3 separate regions of the Homo sapiens genome follow, and all the other regions are linked to region 2. The links come from fine-mapping of genetic effects on gene expression. A gene starts in region 2. Each other region holds a variant in brackets. All regions are shown on one strand. Distances are from middle to middle. Region 1 overlaps PPARGC1A (PPARG coactivator 1 alpha). Region 2 holds the start of PPARGC1A (PPARG coactivator 1 alpha). Region 3 overlaps PPARGC1A (PPARG coactivator 1 alpha).

Region 1 (8,000 bases), 34 kb after region 2:
ATTTTTAAATTTTTTGTAAAGACAAGGTCTTACTATGTTGGCCAGGCTGCTGTTGAACTCCTGGCCTCAATCAATCCTCCCATGTAGAGTTCCCAAAGCACTGAGATTGTAGGGTTGAGCTACTATGCCCCACCTTCTACTCAAAGATTTCTTAATTGTCTAACTCAAAAGCCCTTTTTCAGGTCCCCATTCTTCTTGAATTTTCTGTGCTACTTGAATATTCCTTATTGACCAGGCTACATGAAAATTCTTTCTCTTTTTTGGTGTTATTTTATTTTATTTTATTTTATTTTATTTTATTTTATTTTATTTTATTTTATTTTATTTTATTTTATTTTATTTTGAGACGGTGTCTTGCACTCTCTCCCAGGCTGGAGTGCAGTGGTGCCATCTCGGCTCACTGCAAGCTCCACCTCCCAGGTTCCTGCCATTGTCTTGCCTCAGCCTCCCGAGTAGCTGGGATTACAGGCGCCCGCCACCACGCTGGGCTAATTTTTTGTATTTTTACTAGAAACGAGGTTTCACTGTGTTAGCCAGGATGGTCTCGATCTCCTGACCTTGTGATCCACCCACCTCGACCTCCCAAAGTACTGGGATTACAGGCGTGAGCCACCGTGGTGTTACATTTTAAATATTTTGAATTTTTGTTAATGTTCTTCTTTGCAGTCTCCCAATTTCCTTCCCTCTTCTTTGAATACATCTTCTCTCCTTCCTTTGCTGGAAGACCCTAAATGTACCTGTACCTTCCCCTTACACTTTCAGCATTCAGGCCAACTAGAGATAATTGGACAAGCCAAAGATCATGTCTGACATGGCTCGCTAGTGGCTCTGTGTCTGAATGGGTTGGCATCATCTTTAAGAATCTTGTCTTGGCCTAACTTGGGACTGACATTTTAAGCATTAAAACTCTTCACTAATTAACAGAGGCAACCTAAAGAATAGTTTTTGAAATGATGCTTGAGTGTTCTCTTACTACATTCCCTGGGAATATTCCCTGGAAAGCCCACAGAGTTGATAATGTATTTGAATCATGTACTGGAATGGGCTAGTATTAAAAGTTATTACAATACTATTTTAATTTATATTTATAAACTTATTTATTTGTATTATATAAATTTATATTTACATACTTTAATTTATGTTTATATTTAATTTATTCTACAAAATATAAATATAAATTTACACTTTAAATCTATATAATTTATATTTATATAAGTATATATTTATATACCTTAATTTGTATTTATATTTCAACTCAGCCAGTCCATAAAACTTGTAGTTATTTTTCCTGTCTTTCTAAAAAGGCTAAAAGGCAAATGTTCTGCAGTATGGAACTGAGTCTCCGAGTTAAGAGGTTTGCCAGGTAATTGCTAGCAATGACAAAGGTGAGATTTGACTGTCAATTTTCTACCTTTCTGAACATTAGACAGACTTCCAATATTCACATATCATCTCTATGTGGCATTTTCCAGGACTTTCTTAGGTCTTCAAAAACCAAATGAGGGACATATCTCTACTTCACAATGAGGAAACCAGGACTTAAAGGGGCTTGCCCAAATTCCCTGAGGTCAGCAACCTTCTCTTCTCTTTGTATCCCAAGAACCTAAAGGCAATGGTAGCAAGATGGTTAGGAGACTGGGCCCTGTAGTCAGACATGCCTGCCTTTCAAATCTTAGCTCTACCACTGACTTGCAGTAGGACCATGATTATCTTTTTTCTCCTTTTGTAAAATAGTGCCTGCCTCAGGGTTATTTATTCATTCAGCAAACATTTACTGATCACCTATCATGTGTGAAAATGTTCTAGGAATATAGTAGTGAACCAGGGAGTAAAAAAAATCCTGCCCTCCTGGAGCTTATGTTCTAGTTGGTTGTTGTTAAAATTAAATGAGACAATGCATTGAAAATGTCCTGTATAGTGCCTGGAATAGAGGGGGTATGCATTTTGACAGAATTAAGACAAAGTCTACAAACTCCTGGAAGTAATAGCTTTTGCCTTTCCTTGAATCTATAAAGATAGCAAATGTAATATTAATAAGTCCTTTACTTTTCCAAGAACCATTTCATTCCACGGAAAGCCATAGTAGTATTTAGCCATAGTAGTTGTTTTTATAATTTAGCCATAGTAGTTGTTTTTATAATTTAGAGTTCTTTGGTTGCAAACAATGGAATAGAAAACAAAGAATCAACTCTAGCTTCCTCAAGCAGAAAGGCAGAAGGATATGTATGGCTGATGGAATTGATGAGAGGGTGTTGAACTAGGCTTAGTACCTAAAAGACCTGGAGCCTGGGAACTAAACTGCAAGAGGAGTCTCATCACGATTCAAATGTCAATAGGTTTTCCCTATTCTGTGCTAGCCCTGGAGTGGTGAGAATAGTGTGAGGCTTTTGCTTACTGGCTCTCGGTGTGTATCCAGTCAAGGAGGGATAATTCTGTGAAAGGAAAGTGTGGTGCATTTACAAATCTACTGGGCAGTCAAGAAACAACCAGTGACAGTTCTGAGGTCTTAAAGCTGGATGAGTTATACTGTCAGCACAAAGTGTTTGACATTAAGTAAAAGAATGGGGTTCTTGTTCCCAACTAAACAGTGGGAATTCTACCACCCAGTGGCTATCCTCTGAAATTCCATGAATTGAAACTAGTGCTTATGATTTAGTTAATATACATTTATCTGTATGCATATGCAGATAAATGTATATTTATCTATTTAGTACATAAAATCTATTTAGTACGTGCGTGTGTGTGTGTGTCACACACACACACGCACATACTAAATAGATTTTATGAAACTTCATCCCTGGCTTTATTTGCCAAAGGCGAGTCCTCCATCTTGTGGTTTCTGCATCTCTTTGGCATTTGTCACTATGCACTTGTTGCCTTTTATATTGTCACAGGAATCCCAGAAACACCTATAGAACATCAGTGATGAGCATCTTCTGTGAGTCCAGTGGTGCACTGGCTCTGGGAATATGGAGAGACCTGTTACATTACCTTCTATAATTACATGTATTTGCTATTCCTGAGAAATCATTTGTGTGTCTCTGCCAGGAAACATTAGCCTTTCCATTTTTTAAGTTTTCAAATAATATATGTAGAAATAATATAAGGAAAGTACATAGTTCAATGCTTGCACTTAATTGATAGTCAATAAATGGCAATTTGTTGACATTCCAATACCTTGAACTTCCTGGATAGCTCTGTAAAACGGAAAGTGTCCTTGGGAACAAAACTGCACAAGCATGCTGGTCAAGATTCAAATTCCAGGGAGAAGGTGTTCAACAGCCTGCCCCTGGGCTCTGTGCCAGCCTCTCGGTGATGAAGGGAGAGTCCGGCTTCTGTTATTGGCTCCCCAGTATGTATTCAATGTGTACCTTTAATCAAAGGTAAATTCCATGAGGGAGGGGCCATGCCTGTTTTATAGGCCACTGTATCTTGCATGTAGCAGTTTCTAGCACATGATATGCACCCAAGAAACATTTGTTGGAGAAATGACCAAATTGGGATTCTCTCTACAGAGGCTAAAGGGAAATGACTAAGCTACTTGCTGAGTGGCTATCATTAGTGCATAATTTTCAAAAGCAATCATAGAATGGGCAAGACGTTTAATCTCTGTCATGAAATGTAACCTTTAGAGGGAAGACAAGCAATCACAATGTGACTTCTCCGAGTGTCCTGCAGCTTTGAGCATGGCCCGGGCCTCTCTCTGATGGGGCTGATGAAAGCCAACGAACAAAGGCATTTTGTATGTTAAAACAAACCACATTTAGTCAACAGTGTTTGCAATGACTAATCCCTGGTAAGAAAACACCAAGAAGTGGCCTACACCTCAAAAAATATAAGCACAGAGAATTCTTTCTTGGAATACTGGCTGCAAAAGTTCAGCGTTTGGCATTTGCAATGATTGCTGTTTGATTTTCTTTATGGTTGTGTTGGCACATTCTGGAAAGTCAGGAAGCTCAAGTATATACTGTGGGAGCTCTATGGGGTGGGAATAGGAGATATACAAGCTTTGTTTTGTATTATAACTATTGCAACACATTTCCAAATGTCACTTTTTGTCCATGGTGGGAGAACCTGGGGATAGTTCAATGTCAGATGGTTTCAAGTGACATAACACTAGTGCAGTAATTTATTTATTCAATTATTGTTTATTAAGTGTCTACTATATGTTGAGTCTGGTGACACTTTGGTTTTTCTGTGTTTAAATTTTATTGTTTCATTCTGATGTAGCACATCCCTTCCTGCATCTCTTTGCCAGCCTAATTCCTTATAACAATCCAGACTTCCCCTCCTACATCACTTCTCCCAAACCACCAACACCTGGCACCCTACCACAGCTTAGGTGCCTCTGATGTGGGCCCTGTAGAAGCTTTACATTCTCCCAGGATTTCTCAATCTGCCTGTTTCTTATTTGTCCTGTCTCTCCCATGGGATGAGAAGCTATTTAAGGGTCTGGGCTGTGGTTGTCACTAACCCAGTATCATTACTTAACTCAGTGTCTGAAATATAGTCGGTGCTTATTAAGCATATATTAAATGCATGCAGAATATGGAATTAAATAAACCTGAAATTATTTTTTGGAGTACATTATACAATGCACAAGAGTAGGCATTTTTAGAAGCATCGAGCATAGTAGGTCCTTGCTTGTCCCAAGAGAGC[G/A]TTCAGTTAGCTAAGTAATCCTCATATATTTGACAAATGCTTTCTGAATGCCAATTATGTTCCAGTTTACCATCTATTTGGAAGTAAAGATAAGTATTTTAAAATATAACTAACATTAAAAGTCTTGAGTGGTAAAAGCCAGATTCAAATAAGACAGTGAAGGGTCAGGGGTTGCATGGGTATATTAGTCCAGTCTCACTCTGCTGCTAAAGACATACCTGAGACTGGGTGATTTACAAAGAAAAAGAGGTTTAATGGACTCACAGCTCCATATGGCTGGGGAGGCCTCACAATTGTGGCAGGAGGTGAAAGGCACATCCTACATGGCAGCAGACAAGATAGAAAATGAGAGCCAAGTGAAAGGGGTTTCCCCTTATAAAACCATCGATCTCATGAGACTTACTCACTACCATGAGAACAGTATCGGGGAGTGCGCCCCCACGATTCAGTTATGTCCCACTGGGTTCCTCCTACACACGTGGGAATTATAGGAGCTACAATTCAAGATGAGATTTGGATGGAGACACAGCCAAATCATATCAGTGGGTGAGGATATCACTTAGGCTGGTAAAGTATTTCAACCTAGTTTATATTGGAAACAGGCCTTTCTTTCCCTTCCTTCCCCTTTTTTTCTTTATAGCTTCTCATTCATCCATCTGGGATTTACCCGGTGTCTACCATATTCCAAGCATCGTATTAGATACTTGGAATATAAAAATGAATGACACACTCCAACCTCAGGAAATACACAGCAGTAAAAAAAAATTTTAAAGGTGAATCTTGCCTTTGAACCAAACAGTTTAGTACAGTGTTTATTTTCAGTATAAAAACTCATATTTGTGGGACAAGGCCATCTTCATTTATATAGTTCTTATTCCTTCTCTCAAATTATGTTTCTTGGCCAAGTCTGTGGAACTGTTGGACTGTATGGCCTCTCAGTCAAGCCAGACACAGCTGAGAGGCCATCGGAAACTTGTAGGAATTTCCGGTAATTGGATAGGACCATAATCAAATTTTATATGAAGTCTGGATGTGCTGATGATGTGCCTTCATTTCCCAGGTCAGAGGGAAAATCTGGATGCCTTAATACACCCAAAGGTTAGGAGAGGCCTTTTCTGAAATTGTTTTCAAAGGGATTTCCATGACCAAAATAACATAACTATGCTAAAAATTCTGTGACCTGATAAGAAATCCCTTGCCTGGATTCCTGGCAACATTACTTAAAACTAAAAATGATTCTCTCTTCTCAGAACTAACACTCAGTATCGGACTGACTTATCTGACACTTGTCATGTACACATGGCCTTGTGTCATTAGTTGTATTTTCACTGCTCCTGTCTCACTCCCTTGACTAGATTATAAACTCTTTGAGGCTAATAAAAATAATACAGACAATAGCTAATATTTATTGAGGGTTTCTATGTGCCAGGCAGTATTCTAAGCACTTTATACGTTTCATTTAATTTTTACAACAACCTGTGAGGCAGGTATTTTATCATTATCTTCCCTGTGTATGGGGAACTGGTCCCAGACAAGTTCAGTAGCTTGCCCTAGGTCCCCAATCCTAGTAATTGACAGAGCTAGGATTCATGCCCAGGCAGTCTGACTGTAGAACCTGTACCCTTGTTTACTTTATTGTTTGTCTTCTCTAGATGTCTTGTGCTTTACTACATGCTGACTTGCATGTGGAAGATACTCCAGAAATTAAATCGTTGTTTTATCAGATAGTTTTCTAAATGTCTCATAATCCTATCAAGTTTCTGTCTATCCTTCTGGGTAGGAGATATAAGGCAGTTGTTATTGTCTTAATATTCTTGGTGAGAGTATAAAGGATAAGGGTTTATTTCAGGTACAGCAAAGAATTTTCTACAGAAATCCCTCCTCATTATCACCACTGAAAATTCACAGTGCCTAAGTGCTTATCAGGTTCAAATATGATGGAAACCTGTCCCATCTCCAAATTTGAGATTCCTCTTGTACACATCTAGGACATTTGAGTACCTCCTCAAAATGTGTCTCATTGATCTGAGGTAACATAGCAGATGTAACTTAGGAAGTCTTTATTTTCATTTCTTTAACAAGTAATAGTCCTTTGGACCATTGTAATAGAACACATAAAGTATAATGACCCTAAGTTAATGTTGTTTTATGCTTTATTTTCTGTACCATGTTTCTATCTTACATGTCTCTCACTTTTCCCCCTTTAAAAGATGTTCTAGGGAGTGCCTGCCACTAAAAACTAACCCCTTTCTGTACTTTCCTTTAATCGAACTATGAAATTTTGTGTATTTAAAAATTTTGATTGTATTTTGCTTTCTATAATGAAAACCTTCTTCTAATATAGAAAACCAGTATCCTAAATGCTAAATGCTTAATTAAAAAAATTCTTTTACAAATTTCTTATATAAAAAGGAAAACCTGTGAAAGGAAATCTCTCAGCTCCAGAATCAAATTAACAAATAATTTTGATTGGAATTATTTCATGCAGACCATCCTGTTAACCTGCAAAAGACAAAGTGCATTATAGTTTTTTTTTAGGGCAGTGATGATGTAGCTGGAAGTTGAAATAATTGGTGTACAAATACATGTGCAAACACGCACACATGCATATGCCTGTCTGGGTCATGTGTCTTGTACATATCTATTTCCCTAAAGGCTGATAAAAATGTGCTCACGAAAAGATAAAAACTAGGCTTTATATGGTAAGTATAAAACATGGCATGATGCTGTATAATACTTTAAAAGAGTTATGTTGGTGTGCTTAACCAATATTTCATGGGAGAAGAGAACTCGAATAGGATCTTAAGCTTTAGGATTTCTATGAAGAAAAAAAAACGGAGAAAACTATTTTATAGTGAAGATACCAAAATGTGGAGGTAGAAAAATGGGGGAGGGTGGATTTTTAAAACGACAATCAGAGGAGAGTGACTCCAGTGCTCATGGGAGGTAGGCAGGAAAGAGAATGAGTGATGTGGCCTTGATGGGGAGCAAGTACAATGAAGACTGCCATGAAAATTCTATGTCAGGGCTGTAGGGGTGGAGACAGTGGAAATCTGAGGAGAGCAGCCTCTCTGTAAAGTGATCAGCTCCTCCTCAAATCCCAGCTTCTCTAGATCTTCAGATTTATTTTTTAAAAGCAGAAATTTCAGATACAATTTGCGGTTCAATAACTGTTGTTAAGTAATCTAATAATGTTTAAAAACCTTTTGTAGGCAAAACCATGCTCACCAAATGAAACGTATGTCTGGACTGGTTCCTCCTGAAGACCTCTAGTTTGAAACTTGAGCTAGAAAGAATGAAATAATTCTACATTTTAATTCAAAATGTTGTGGTCTGCCTCC
Region 2 (8,000 bases):
AAACTACAGTAATTTTCTGCTGTGTGTAAGAGAGAAAATGTGCTTATGAACTGTATTCAGCAAACTTAAAATGTTGAAGCTCTTGGTCACCTTTTTATGCCCAGTAATGATAAACTGTCAATTTGCTTACGTTATTTGGGAATTTACTAGCAACTTGCTGCAGATATCACAGTAGACACATCTCTTATAATATGTATGATCTGAAAGAAGCAGCAGTCTGGTAGTTTTTTGTTTGTTTTATTAAAATAAAAACTTATAAACTTATAAAAACAAATGAACAAATATATTTATCCTAATAGCTCTTCTGAGTTTGCTTCTGAAATCACCTATATTCAATATAGACAACAAAACCAATTGTTTTTGCTATTCTCTGAGGTTTTTGAGTTTGAGGGTTTGAATTTGATTCTAATTTTTAGAAATGGGCAGTTGTCTGAAATATGGAGGGATGGGAAAAGCCTTTAATTTGGAGTAGGAGTGAGGAAGGAAACCCAAATGTTATACACTTCAGTCAACGTATTTGTTAGAGAATTGAATTATTCTCTTGAGGTTTTTTTTTTTCTCTTTGTTAGCAACTCGAGATAGATTCTCCTGCCTCTACTAATATTGAAACCCTGGAAAATGTTAACAGAACTACAGAGGGGAGAAATTATCAGGATGGAATGTAGGCTTTGTGTAGATATGCAACATTGGGGGCACTCAGCAGATGTTAATAAATACCTCTTTCTATTGTTGAGAAAAAATGGGTTTGATTTGGGTGTGAACTGCAGTGGTCAATGAAAGGAACTTGTATCTCACCAGGGTGTGTTTTAAGCAGTAGAAGAGGAATCTGGGTGTTGATCCAAGTGACGTTGGTTTTTCATACCAAATTATTCCCCATTTTTAAGGGTTGTCATCCCCCTAAAATTGTAAGCTCTCTTGTGTCCATGTCATATGCTTTCTTGGCAGTCCTTGTGATACATGGCTGTGCACACAGTAAGGTTTCAATAGATCCTTGTTGTCTGAAACCAGATATTTGGGAATTTTGGAGACAGAGTTGACGAAGGGGTGAAAGGAGGGCTGTGGGTAGAGAGTAAGAGAAATAGTCAAAGCAGAGAGAGAATTAAATAGAGAAATGGCCCGGGGAACCAGAAAAAAACCAAGGTTGGTGAGCAATGAACCATTTAAGTTCTCCTGAGAAAAGAAAAAAAAAAAAACTGGACTGAAGAAAAAATTTAATCTGAAGAGTTAATTAACAAAATTATAAAACCTCTAAAACATCCCTCTCATTACAGTTGTAGTTTTAAGACAAAAAAAAAATATCGTGGAAAGCACTCTAATTTGTCCTAGGAATCTATTTAATTTTGATTTGTCCAGTAATAGAAATTTGAGGGGGAAATGCAATATACTGTAGTTTATGAGTCTTTTAAATGTTGTTACTTCTGAATTCCATCCTCTTTGTGATAGTGAGAGTGAAGAAAACACAAGTGTATTTGAAATCACTTCTGGTTTCAGTGCATGTGCTGATTTGATTTTTTAGAAGTAGAATTAGATGGCAAAAAATAAGAAAACCCTAACAATACAATCTGGGCAGGTTAGAATATCAAAAATTATAACGAGCCTGTTCTAATGTAAAGAACATCTCTAAAAGATGTGAATAGGTTTTAAAAATATGATGAATATCTAGCATTGGATAAACACAAATAAAGGTATCAGTGAATATCACAATGGAAGAATCACATGATAATAATTAATAAACATTGACTCTTCTTGGCCAGGTGACCAATATTATTTCACAGTTGATCCTTGAGGGCAGAGCCAATGACCTTTGTCCTGAATTTTAATAATTTACTGAAGTTTTACATTAAATCAGAATATAATTGGGAAGAAAATTAGTGTTTCTTTGTGGGGAGTGCAGAGTAATGCCACTAATTGCTTGTATAAAAGCATTCCCGAGGTTGTATTTTCCTGTTCTTTCATTAGAAAATTAAAACTACAGTAATTTTCTGCTGTTTATAAAAGGGAAAATGTGCTGGTGAACTGTATTCAGCAAACTTAAAATGTCAAAGCTCTTGGCCACCTTTTTATGCCCAGTAATGATAAACTGTCAACTTCCTTACATTATTTGGGAATTTACTAGCAACTTGTTGCAGCTCTCACAGCACACAAATCTCTTATAATATGTATGGTCTGAAAGAAGCAGCAGTCTGCTGGTATTTTGTTTCTTTTGTTCTTTCTTTCACTTTAATATTTGAGCAATTTAATATTTAAAATATGTGTTAGGGCAAATAACCATGTTTTTCTGTTTAAGGAGATGGACAATGAAGAACAGTGTAAATTAACCTCAGTAGAATAATGCTTTACAAATTATATTTAGGTAACTGGGGGATTGTTTTCAGGTAAATTATTATCAAGTAAAAGAATTGAGCTGATTCTAAAAGTATATTGGGTTTAACATTTTATGAAAACATGTTTATTCACACAGATACATACACGTGTACATCTCCTGGGAACTTGGAAGGGTTAAGTCAGACCACTGTCATGTTACAGGAAGTGTTTTTCCACTGTGTCCAGTACCTTGAGTTTGTTATGTATTCAATATGTAGTGTCATCATAAAACAGTTGCACCTACCTGCATTAGCCCTCATTGTCTCAAGGTACAAGCTGAAAAATAATAGAAAGTAAAGCTCAGGAATTGAATATTTCTGCTAATAGTGTGTTGGTATTTTTCCCTCAGTTCACAGACATTCTTGATTTCAAAACGCAAACTACACAACCCAGGGCACTAGGGTTGGAATTCAATGTTTATTCAAAAAGGCACCCTAAGGCAGTTAGGGAGGAAACGCTACATGTATGAAAAATAGGAGCCGGGAATCAAAGCTGATCTGAGCAGAGCAGCAGCGACTGTATTTACTAACACTTGTTTTCTGGGAGCCTATGAGAGAAATGGAAATAATTAGAAGGAAGCTGAAAGGATGGGGTTTTGTGGCTTGTTCTCCTTATATGGAGCAAAGAAAACTGCAGCAACTCTTCGGGAGCTGGTATTCCCTACTGCCATGGGGGCAGCCGAATTCTGGGTGGAGGAGTTTGTTTATACCTTAACACATACAGGCTATTTTGTTGATTAAACAAGCAAAAAAAAAAAAAAAAAAAAAAAAAGCCCCGTTTGCGCTTTCAAACACTCCCTCAATGAGAAAATGTCTCATAAAAATGCATCATGTGATAAGCTCTTGCTTTAGTCCCAAACTGAGCTTGAGTCCACTTGGAGATCTTAGAATTAAAGAGTTCTTAGGGAATACACGTTTTAGCTAAGAATATAGTTACTCTGTCATGAAACAGGGAGCTTTGCCACTTGCTTGTTTTGGAAGGAAAATAAATTAAAAAAAGATTGCAGGGGATTTTGGTTATTATATGGCCAGGGCTCCGTTTAGAGTCTGTGGCATTCAAAGCTGGCTTTAATCACAGCATGATGCTTGAAGCCTCCAAAAGTCTAAGTGTTTCCTTTCTTTCTTTCTTTTCTTTTTCTTTCTTTTTTTTTTTTTTTAAAGCGTTACTTCACTGAAGCAGAGGGCTGCCTTTGAGTGACGTCACGAGTTAGAGCAGCAAGCTGCACAGGGGAAGGGAGGCTGGGTGAGTGACAGCCCAGCCTACTTTTTAATAGCTTTGTCATGTGACTGGGGACTGTAGTAAGACAGGTGCCTTCAGTTCACTCTCAGTAAGGGGCTGGTTGCCTGCATGAGTGTGTGCTCTGTGTCACTGTGGATTGGAGTTGAAAAAGCTTGACTGGCGTCATTCAGGAGCTGGATGGCGTGGGACATGTGCAACCAGGACTCTGAGTCTGTATGGAGTGACATCGAGGTGAGCTGGGGCAGGGCTCGGCGCTGCAGCCACAACTGACGCTTCCCTCAGATGCTATTATTCCTGTAAGGGGGGATGGGCTTGGGCAAAGAGAGGAGCCAGGAAAGTAGTCCAGGCAGGAGCTTTTAGAAGAATCTCAATCTTATCTTAACTCCAATAAGTTTGCTATTTTAAGGTGGCTCTGAGATGGCTTGAGCAAATCAAAGCTTAGCTGCTGTCATCAGTATCTGTTGCAGTTAGAAACTCTTTCCATGTGACTTTGGCACTGTTTCTACTCATATGCAATATTTATGCTCTAAGATATTGATATGAATCAGAAGCTGAAGTCTTTCCAGTGGTGTTTAGTGGCCTGGTTGGAAAAATGCCATTTCTATTTATAATAAGACGAAGATAAAAATATTAAAATGGATGTGTTCAAATATAGTCCGTTTTGACTCTAGTCCGGATTTTTCCCCCCTCTCTCTCTGTTCATCAGACAGAGAACTTACAAAATCCTAAATAATCCTGCTGGGCTATTTTAGATTGCTTTTCCCACAGAACACAAAACAACGATGCTGCTTCCTTTAAAACTCCTATACGTGGTTGAAAGATTTGGCCAGCGAATAAAAAGAAACGCCTGGCAGTGCAAGGTTTTCCGTTCGCGTCGGTGGCAGGGAAGCCAATGGTTAAATCTTCCTGTACCACGGAGAGCTGCCTGAAGCTGAGAGAGAATAGAGTTTATGCAGGACTGTGTGTGGAGCTGCTCGCTGCTAGTGTAAAAATAGACAGCAATACATCAATTCCACAGTCTCTGCTGGCTACAATTCATACAGGGGGGAAAATAACGCAAGCAGTTTCCTCGTAATCTCTGGAGTCTAGTGGGGGGACGGAGGACCTCGGCGTGTTTGCATTCAGCACAATGGAATGCTCTCGGAAGGAAAGTTTGGGCAACTTGGGAAACAAGCAAAACTTTCTGTGGACTCTGGTGAGATGGACTCGAATTGAATTGCATGGAGGATCCCAGCTGCTAACAATGAATCTGGCAAAAGACTGCGAGTGTTTCCTCTGGGTAGCTGGGGGCACGTAGGGTAAGGGGGAGGATCAAGCCCACACGTGATTTGATTAAATAAGATGTCCATGTGGTGCAGCGATACACATCTAAAGTGAAAATAATTTGGCCAAGGCCGTCTGTGAATGCATTTTTCCTATCTAGCGAGGCATGCCCGGGATTCTTAACTCTTTGCTGGGTTTGCAAATGTTGGCTCCATTTGCCCTCCCTTGCCTTGGTAGATCGTATTTGTGGATTGTAATTGTTATCTTGTTCTGATTTCTTGGTAAGGCGGAATAGATATGGATAATTCATATGCCCTGTAGCCATTATGAGTCAGGGTTATAAGTGGCTTCAAAGTCCTAATTGCCTTTGAGTAGCCGGAGTGTCCTGTGGGTGGTTGTCTGGCTGGCACTGTGGGTCTCAGCTGCTGTAGTTTCATTTTTCCATCATGTATTATTCCTGATGCTGTTAGGAGTTGATTGAGGAACTAGATCATATGGAAATAAGGAAGATTTATTTTAATCATTGGAATTCCTGCAGTCATTTTCAAATAAACATCAGAAGCATTTAGAATAGTGGCCTTTAAATTTTTTTCTTAAGGAGGAAAGGTCTTGGCTACTTGTCCAGCCATGGATAGAGTCGCCAGTCGGCTGAGATTGGCCAGTCACTTCTCTGTTGCACTATAGGCAGCTAGCTGCTAGAAGCTTTGCCTACATGGCAGCGGCTCTGGGAATCACCTCCGCCTGTATAAAATATTACGAGCAGCAGGTAGCGTTGGCAGTTTTCATTTTTTGAATCATTAATGTTTGCTGTCATCCTAAAACGTATTATGCCCTTTTGCACATAATGACAGGGTAGTACATTGGTTAATATAGGCCTATATCACTATAGCTACTTGGAGTGCCCCGTGTTTCACAGTTTAATGAAGGTGATATACAGTAAGGTTACTAAGATTGATAGAGACAATTCACATGACATACACCCCACTAAGACTGTCATTCTTTACTGCCCCTCTCTCCACCCCCTTTCCCCTGTCTTAACTAATTTTTTTAAGAACCCAGTTTCTTTTTTCATTAATATAATTAATGTGGCCAAGTCCACTCCTTCTTCTCTCTCTCTCTTTAAAATTTACCATCAATGGCACAAAAACCTCCAAAAGGTTAATGGAGAATTATACTTAATTATAATGATTCATTATCATCAGTGCAGTTAAGCTAATTTATTGTCTGCTCCTTAACTAAGAGAAAAGTCTGTTGGGGTGAAATAACATACAATAATTAGCCTTTTGTGTTTAGTGACTGCTTTATCCTCTTAAATCTTATTATAAAATTGAGGCTACAGTTGTGAAATAGCTGTCATAGTTGCAAAGAGGCAGTAGAATGTGTCTGTGTAATTGCAATAAAGCACACCTGTTACAGAGGTATAGGGAAACAGTAAATATCAGCATGTCAGATGAGGACAGTTACAGGGCTTGGACTGTTAAGTCTGGCATTGTCCAAAGGCCAAATATAAATTAATAACAGGAACACTTGCTACCACTAATGTGTTTTAGATTAGCAGGATAATGCCACATTCAGAAGCACAGATTTTATTAGCATGTCAACATTGGCAAGAACACATGCACTTTTCTCAACCATAACATAAAAGCAAAATGAGAGAGAGAGAGAGAGCGCACGAGCGAACAAGTGAGAGGAAGGAAAGGAATATGTAAATGACAAGATAGCACCAATACAACAAATTGACCTGGTCTTTTCAATGGTTTTCAAAAGTTATTTAAAAATACATATTTATGGAAGGTTAAAGGGTTATGAGCAAGTCATGCCAAAGAGGGCAGTTAAAGAGAGGGACAGGAAGAAGTTGTCCACAAATCAGTATGCTACTTTAGCATTCCAAAACATGGTTGGTTCCTAAGTTTCACAACAGGAACTTAAGCCATATGTAGACAGCCTACATTTTCTTGATTATTTTTACTTTTGTGTTGCTATTTTTGTTGTTCATGTTTTTTTTTTTTTTTTTTAAAGACTATGCCCCTATAAAATCCTAGTGTATCTTGCACCGTTGAAAAAGTTCTCCCCCATCTCTGAATTGGTGACATTGAGGAAAAGTTAAGATAGTGTGTTTGGGCTTGGAGGATCAGCTGTGTGGGCAAGAATGGAGTCTGGGCAGTGTTACATCCACAACCAAATATGAGCATTGTACCAGAACGAGATCTCTTCAGCCCAGCCTCCAGTTACTTATATGCCTTGTCAAGTATACTGATCTGTAATTTTGGGCTAACTCAGATAATAAAAGGAAAGACCAATAAAATGATAAGGAAAGAGTTTTGATGGTGAGGAGGGCCCTTTCTTTGCATTCCCTTGTCCCTGCTGCCAGGGATCTCACTGGGGTCCAATGGTCTTAGAGAAGGATGGCAATGATTTTCAGTCTCCCCCCATCCTCCCCTTACCAACTGCTGACTCCATTACCCAGTACTTACTTCTCAGCGTGTTGCTTTTGATCACGCTGCTGCATATGACCTGTGTAATGTGGCCTGCTAGGAATCCCTGCCAGGGATAACAGGGGTGCTTGAGAAAGAAAATCTGCATAAAACTTATTTCATTCAAAATGTAAATGTCAAGGAGCATCTTTCATTTTATGCCTAACTGCAGCCTGGATGTGAACAATTCCACAGCATCTCTCCTGACCTTGGAAGGCAGGGCCATGAGGGTGCTGCGTCAGTGTGTGCCTCCTGATTTAGACACCCCCACTTACAGGTGGATGAAGTCCTTACTGTTCTGGCAATGCCAGACCCCTGCAATAGGAGTTCCTGCAGTGTTCTTTACTGTCTGCGGACTGACATTAGCGGTTAGGTAGCCAATTCAAGTTTAGGAGACCACCTCATTGGTAAGGGGAGTCCACTTGCCTCCAAAAGCCGCATGGTAAAACAGTTAAAAAGACTGTCTATTTCATGTAAGGGGATGAAATGCTTTGACAATCTAAAATAATCTTGGTGATAAGCAGCCCAGCCATGGTAGAGATATTTTAAACCTCTCAATATGTAGAAATTATTTTAAAACTCTAAACAAAAATAGTTATTTTGAATTCACGTAGAGCACAGTTTAGATATACATAAATAATGAACAAAATATAGTGATGG
Region 3 (8,000 bases), 23 kb after region 2:
ATACACTTCTTCACCCCTCACTTAACGCTTGCTTCCTTTTGCTTTACTTATGATTTAAATGAATCCGGTTGTCTAATGTTCTATTCAATATGTGATGTTCTATGAGCACATATGACATTTGAAGAAATGGTTTAGAAAATTCATGAAATGGTGACAGTAAAAAGATAATGGTGAGCAGTGACAACTGACCAAAAGAGACAAGACTACAAACTACAGAAAGTTGACAAACCCTGAAAATATGACAGTCTGGGGCCTTTTAGTTTGAGGGAAAATAATCCTATATTTCTCAATAGGTCCATACAGTCATTTTGCAATACCAGACAGTGCTACCAAAATCAATCCTCATAATTTTTAAAGTGGGGAAAATATGTAAATACGTGATTCGGAAATCTTTCCATAAAAAAGTTTTAATAAAAAGTTTGGTGCTTAAGCAAGTTAAGTTCTTTGATTTATCTGCACCAGTGCCTATGTGGATTAAAGCCTGATCATGTGAGGAAATAGGTGAGGCATATATACAAACACAAACACGTAGTTTTAGATCTAACAGATTTTAATGGAGTTTATATATTATCCTGTAAGTGTTTCCTGTGTAGACTTTGATAATAAAGAAGAAAATGCTCCATGAAATACCGAACTTCATTTTATAATCTGTTAGATTACATCTTCCCTTAAAAATACAGCTATTGAAATTTTCTTGAATAAAGAGACCACTGGATTCTTTTTCCTTATCAATAGTAAAGCTTTTTGGCTACAGGGACGTTGGTCAAGACAAATATAGCTCAGTAGAGTTATCGTTAAGTAAGCAATTTCCCACATTACTTTAGAATGAAATCGCCTATACTTTTCTCCTTCATGGCTTTCCGTATTTATCCTACCCAGTCCTCAAATAAGCCACCACCCCAGCAATGCACAACTCACTTGTAAATATTCATCTGGAGCATACGAAATCGTAATATCACTACAGAGACTAACTGCCCCCCCGCCCACCCCGCCGTGCCATTTTCCTTTGGAGACTCTTATAAATAAATGAACAACCTTAGAGCTTTCAAAACAGTCATTAAGATCTGCTACTTGCCTTTGGATAAAGAATTTCAGATAATGTACAGGACTGGGCTTCCTAAATCTAATTTCTGTCTAAAAACCTAGGGAATGCTGTAGCTGTATCTTCTCTATCCAAACTCTCTTGACTGATTCTGGCACCTTTCACCTGAGAATGCACAGCTCAAGATTCTCTATACGGACCCAGAGCCTTGGTCGGGCCACAACCCTTCATTAATATTCAAACTTTGGCAGTTTCAAAGAATGCTGCCCTCCTCGACCACTGTGAGCAGTCCAGCTCCCCTGCTACTTTCTCTCATGCTTATCCTTTGTACGAAGACATCTGTGTCTTTCCTCATGTCTCTTTCAGGAGTAATTCTTCCCCTTGTTCAATTTTTTCCTTTCTCTTTATGGCTGTCGTAATAGCCCCTGATACAGCCAGGCAGCCATGACCCTGTCCATCACTCACCTGCAAGCTATTCTTGAACCACTGGATGGTCCCTGAGTGACTAGATTAATGGTGCCAGTGGTGAGCCTTTTCACCTGACCTTTCATCCAGTGACATACAAGCTGATTCCAGGCTGTGTGCAAGGCTGGCTGCCCTGCCATCTCTGCACCCTCCATGAAACCAAGCAGTGGAAAGGAGAGTATCCATGCAAATTAAGTGCAGAAGCAGGGATAAAATAAGGTGTGCAGTTGGGAGTTATCAGAAATTAAATCTGTCTTCCTTTGAGTGCCATTGGAAATGAGTCTTAAGGAATGAGAACTGAAAGGAAACTTTCCATAGACACCATTTCCATAAACGGTATTGTCACAATATGCTATTTTAAAGACTGGTTGTTTTGGTCTGTGTTTACATTAAGCCTTTACCAGGCATGGGATAAACTATTAAGTCCCGAAATTTAGGAAAGTATTTGTGGCCGTCTTTGGCACAAAGTGAATTTTTGTTGTCACATGTGCAAAAGAGCATCTTTTTCTTTCGTTAAGGCCTTCGAATTGTGGTTCAGCTTTCTAAGTAATAGCTTTTTGGCTAAATCTCTCAAGGTGCATTATAAACTGCATGAGGGAAAGAGGGACCTCATCACCTCCTCAGTCCCTAGCACAAAGCTGTGCACATTAAAACTCTCTCTAGTTTTTGTTAATGGACAGATTTACAGGGGCTCTACCAAATTCAGAAAGAGAGAGAGAATATAACATGACCTTCCCAGCCATTCAGACCAATCATGCTAAAAATAAGACATATCCAAGATCTGAGAACATGTTCTCCAAGAGATGGTTTATAAACAGAGCCAATAGTGACAGCAGTATGCTGTGTGTCTGCCAGAGTGTCTGTGAACTTACCCCCTAACTCAGCTACAAGACTTGCTGTTCAGATGAAGATATATGGAGTTGGGAGACATGTGGTTGTGTTAAGCGAATGTGCATTGGCGGGTAAAGGCGCTGCTATATGTCTACTGAAGACATAGAGCATTTACTCTTCTCTCCCCGAGAAGAGGAAAGGGCTCTGCCACTCAATGAAGAGCTCAGGAACAGGTACCTTACCGGGGTTCCAGAGCATGAAAGTAAGTGTGTCTCTGTTCAAGGAACCCGCTGTTCCCAGGAAGCTCATGCAAATGCATGGCCACAGCTTCCCAACACGCTGTTCCCAGCACTGTGCCCGTATTTCCTGGCTGGTTTTGACCCTCTCAATGGATTCAGACTTAAAATTTTTGCAACTGTTTTTGTCGTTGTTGTTGTTGTAGTTTCCTCGTTTACGATTGTAATGAAAACAGTTTACCTCTTGTGGAAAAGTGTGCATGATTGTACAAGTTTACTGTGCCATACTTGTATCGCAGTTGCCTTATTTTTGGAAGAATCAAGCTTAGGGGCTAGAAAGAAATCCTGGGCTGGGGAATGATGGGTAATTTCTCAAGGCATTCAGATCTTTCAGAAGTTGTGAATGATTCTGACCTTACTTTCATTTATAGTCTGTGATCATTGGAACCAGGATGCAAAAATAGCAGAGAGAGGATCTCCTTCACCTTAATTCCCTGCCCTTTTCTGGTATCTGTAGTACAATTGACTATATGGACATCACTGCTATTTTAGCAAAAGCTGGTGAGTTATCTTTTTTAGACGGGACAGTCTACCCAGTCCAGGATTTTAGTCTGACTGTCATGTTATAATTCAGTATGTTCCTATGCAGGATGCTCTAATGCAGAGACTGATTTCATTCATTCTTAAACTGACCCATTTATCAACTATTTTAAAAAGCAACAACTACATGC[T/C]AGGCACTAATTTAAGTGCGCATAATACAAAGATGTATTAAGTACATAATGCCTACGACACAGAATTTTCCCTTCAGGAGTTGGTTGGCTAGTGAGAAAGACAGACTTCGGCAACTAATTATAAAATAAGGGGATGCATTCTGTATTAAAGTCAGAAATGAAGTACCATGAAGACACACATAGAGGAGTAAAAATGTCCGTGAAAAGGGTGAGAAGAGAGGAAATTTGATAATTGTTGCTAGATTTTTTTACTCGTGAGTCTTCAATAAGTCAGAAGTTAAATACCCTCTTATTTATTTATAAAATTTAGCAAACTGCACTTCCCACCTCTTAGGAGGAAGACAAGAAAAAGGATACACATAGTAGGTTCTTAATAACATTTGAAAATAAATTTGCCTTCTAACAAGTCCCGTCTACATTGCACTCCGCAGTTCAATGGCTCATTAGGTTTTAACAAAAGCAGCGCAGCAAAATAAGAAGGATTCTTGAGTCAAGCACCCCCGGGCGGTATCTCTGAGAGCAAATGTGACAAATAGAATCAGAAATGAATTAAATAGTCAGCTACAGCAAGCCAAGCTAAAAAAAAAAGCTCTGAAATGACCCAAAATGGAAACGTATTACAGTTATCTGCATTCACAGTACCGAACAAGTTTGGTCGTATTTAAGATAATTCTCTAGTGCCTGCTATTTTTAGCTCAAGGGTAAGCTCCTGTAAGAGTCTTTCGGCATTGCATCCCTTTAACCTGGCCTAACAAACTAAGCCAATAAGCTGTCTGATTTTCCTGGTCCATCAGGGAGGAAGAGAGATAGCTAAAACAAACCATTTGCGGGGAAAATGTTCGGCCTATCTTGTGTTAAGAGCTTTTTTCATATAGATTTTTAAAACATCCCAATATTAAGTGTTGCCTGTCAGAGACCAAAATGTCAAGCTTTGCTGTTTTGAAATTGGAGGCTCATGGTTATAAAAAGAGGATTTTATAGGCCTAGTCTAATGGAAATAAACATTACTCCATTACCTTCAGTAAAACCAAATCTTTACAGTTCAAGCTATCATTATTAATGTCTATGAGAAGAAAGAAATGTTTCTAGGGCTTTATTTATTTTTTTTAGGTAAAGAAAGGCGAGCTGTACCATAGCAAATGAAAGTTTTCTTAAAGCTTTCTCCTCAGTGACTTTGCAGTGTGTAATTTAAAAGCAGAAAGCAAAGAAAATGCAGTTTTAAAACACTAGGCTGGCTATTCCTGGTATCTTTCTTTCTTACATATTCACAACTCTTTGTGAGCCTATTGCTCTGTCAATTCTTGTCTGTCTGTCTCTATATAGTGTATACAAACAACTTCATCAACTATTATTCACCACCTTCTAAGTGCACATGTACATGTGTGCGTGTGTGTGTGTGTGTGTAGGAATAAATGTGGGCTGTCTCAGTTTAAGCCATATAACTGCATGTGTAGATTACAACACTTAACAATATACTAGTTTCCACTCATTTCATCAGAAACCATGCTGCTGATCATCAAAGTTTAAGACTGTTCTCAGGTTGACCAGTTTACCTACATTCTGAAGCCTGCATTTGCCAATTTAGTGTGAAATAGATTTCAGCCGCAGATGCTACCTGTGAGGCAATTAATCGCCAGATATTTCTTGAGTTCATATTATTATGTGCAAGGTGTTATGCCAGGTGCGGTAAGAGGTGGAAAGGTGTCTAACACAAGGCCTCAGTCCTCAAGGAGACTTGTCACTGAACTGCAGAAATGAGATACCCATGTTGATAGAATGCCACCCAAGGAAATTTTAAGACATTTATAGAGTCCCTACTGTGTCCCAGACACCATGCATGGGTCTTCTCTCTTAATAGATCTGATTCTACCTGAATTACCAGCCTTCTCATAAACATTTTATTGGGGCCGTGCTAAGTGTCAATCACTACCCTTGGTTATGTGTGATTTCTGTCTTCCCACAGATGAGGAACTTAGGACTTAGTATTTAACCAGAACTCAGATTTCCTGGTTCTTACTGCTTCTCCTCAGTGTCAGAGAAGAAATGGGTATTTTCTATCAGGAATCCTCAGAAACGCTGGCCAGTCACATTGCCATGTTCAAGGATATATTTGCTTGACTGAGGTGGTCCATTGATGGTTGAAGGATCAAGCTGTGACTCTTTCTTTTCTTTTGGAGGCAGTCTCACTCTGTTGCCCACACTGGAGTGCAGTGGTATGATCTTGGTTCACTACAACCTCCACCTCCCAGGTTCAAGTGATTCTCCTGCCTCAGCCTCCCGAGTAGCTGGGATTACAGGCGAGCACTACCATGCCCAGCAAATTTTTTGTGTTTTTAGTGGAGATGGGGTCTCACCATGTTGCCCAGGCTGGTCTCAAACTCCTGAGCTCAGGCAATTCACCCACCTTGGCCTCCCAAAGTGCTAGGGTTACAGGCGTGAGCAACCGTGCCTGGCCAGTGGTGCCTCTTTTTTGCAGAGAACTGCTGGTTGCAATTGCAACTGCCGTCTGCTGTCAATGAGGTCTTTGGTGCTTTGCAAGCTTGCTGCTGATCTTTAGTCCCCTTTAAGACGGGCTGTTAATCTTTAGCACAAGGCTGACTCTGCAATACAGCACACACCAGGTTGCCTAACTTCTTGTTTATGTGCTCCCAGGGATCAGAAACCAGTTTGCTGTTTCCCCCTAAAACCACAAGCCTTGGGGTCATTGTCTCTATCTGTCCTTTGTTCTCCATGTACAGTCTGCTGCGAAAGACTTTCCTCTTGTTCTTGAGTGCATGTTCACCATCTTCCTCCATCATTTCCTTTGAACCCTCAGTAACTCATACTTAGGTGATTTAGCCTTCCTCTCCCCTGCCAGGGCTGGTTGCTGCTACTCCTGAAGGTATACTACCCCACACATACCATACTTGATTGTTAAACCAAACATTATTTTTCAGCATCTGCTGTGTACCTAGAATTTTGCCGGAAACCATGATAATTACAGACCAAGTATATGGGCTTGGGATTCCCTTCCTTTGGGGATGCCCAGCTGTATAAGGAGGCAAGACTTACCCGGGTGACACAATCAGACAATGGGTAAAATGTAGATAGTAAAATGTGGACAAAGCCCTGTTCTAGGCACCATATAAATAAAAGAGACAATGAATTAGCCCCTGCCTTCAGTGTCCTTAAAAACTAAGGAAACATGTGAGCATTGGCCTGATATTAACAAACTACTCTAAGAATTTTAGAGGTGGGAAGAGATCTGTGAAACCTATGAGTGAAGAGGGAAGCTAATGTGGTGGAGGTTGCCTTTGAAATAGATCTTCAAGGCTGGGTCCAGTGACTCACACCTGTAATCCCAGCACTTTGGGAGGCTGAGGCAGGTGGATCACCTGAGGTCAAGAGTTCGAGACCAGTCTGGCCAACCTAGAGAAACCCTGTCTGCACTAAAAATACAAAAATTAGCCAGGCGTGATGGCACGCGCCCATAATCCCAGCTACTGGGAAAGCTGAGGCAGGAGAATCACTTGAACCTGGGAGGCAGAGGTTGCAGTGAGCTGAGATTGCGCCACTGCACTCCAGCCTGGGTGACAGAGCTAAACTCTGTCTCAAAAAACAACAACAAAAAAGATACAGATCTTCAAGGTGTAGAGAGATTTCCATGGACGGAGAGGAAACGTGGGCATTTTAGACGTCGGCTTTCATCTCATTATTATTTTAACACATATTTATCACCTACTATGTGCACGGATTTATGCTAGATGTTGGAATAAAAAACTGAACAGGATAGAGACAATGCTATGAGCAACACAGTAGTGGTGAGGAAAGACCAAGTGATGACTGGGGACTCATCTAATAGAGCAGCAGAGAAAGTAGATACAAGTGAATGGGATCTTGGAATTGTACTAAATTAACATGAGGGGAGATTTCATCTAGCATGCTCATTTCACAATGGAGAAACTGAGGCCCAGGCATGTGAAGTGACTTGCATAAAGAATATCAAGGTTAAGTCAGGAGGAGCAGAAAAAAAGACAATATGGGGTTTGTTAGACACCAGGGACTCTTAAAAGTTATCTGGTGGCATCAGCGAAGAAAGGTTATCTTAGAGCTTGCAACCAGGGGCCTGGTGAGGAAGCTGTTGAGGTTTTCAGGCTTGAGGTCATAGAGCTTGAATTAGGGGGTGATGGTGACAATGAAAGGAAGGAATGCATATGGCAGACTTCCCGAAGGAAGGATCAATAAAGATTGTTGTCATATTAAGTGATAGGTTGGATGTTGTGGTGAAAAAAGGGAGGAAAAATGGCTGTGGTTTCAACCTTGGGTGATTTGGAGAATTTGGGCTTGGTTAACAAAAATGAGAGAATGAGAAGAGGACATGTTTCAGGGAAGGCGCAGAGAGGAATGTGATGCGCAGATTGTAAAGCAGGTGGGGCGGCTGCTATTGGAAGGAAGTCCATGAACAATATGCGACGATGGAGCTCTGGAGAAGTCATGGAGTGCTTGATAAGGAGGGGTGTCTTCAAGAACATTGTTTATTTGGCAAATAAACTGGAGGAAAGATTTAAGGGATCCCCTTTTGCCCCACATAGTAAAGATTTTTCTCTTGCTTTGAGTTTGATAATTCGCCAGGCTTCTTCTTGCCAATAATAATAATACTACAGTAGCTTTGGGCTTGCCCAGCACTGGACTCAACATCTTAAGACAATGTTAAAA

Evidence for each region. PIP is the estimated chance that this variant, and not a neighbour inherited with it, causes the effect.
Region 1: its variant is the best candidate, but not a certain one, in a credible set for the expression of PPARGC1A in monocytes (TOPMed, PIP 0.72).
Region 3: its variant is the best candidate, but not a certain one, in a credible set for the expression of PPARGC1A in blood mononuclear cells (TOPMed, PIP 0.68).

Annotation. Positions count from the first base shown.
Region 1 is chr4:23,852,124-23,860,123 of GRCh38, reverse strand. The region is part of intron 2 of PPARGC1A (PPARG coactivator 1 alpha); the gene reads left to right. Among named protein-coding and RNA genes, the nearest start is that of PPARGC1A, 34 kb to the left of the region's middle. RefSeq lists an enhancer at 7,488-7,657. The variant G/A (reference allele first, on the strand shown) is at 4,660.
Region 2 is chr4:23,885,738-23,893,737 of GRCh38, reverse strand. PPARGC1A (PPARG coactivator 1 alpha) reads left to right here and starts at 3,691. Exons shown (of 13, transcript NM_013261.5): 1 at 3,691-3,834. The coding sequence starts at 3,781. RefSeq lists an enhancer at 7,016-7,592.
Region 3 is chr4:23,862,662-23,870,661 of GRCh38, reverse strand. All of the region lies in intron 2 of PPARGC1A (PPARG coactivator 1 alpha), which reads left to right. Among named protein-coding and RNA genes, the nearest start is that of PPARGC1A, 23 kb to the left of the region's middle. The variant T/C (reference allele first, on the strand shown) is at 3,306.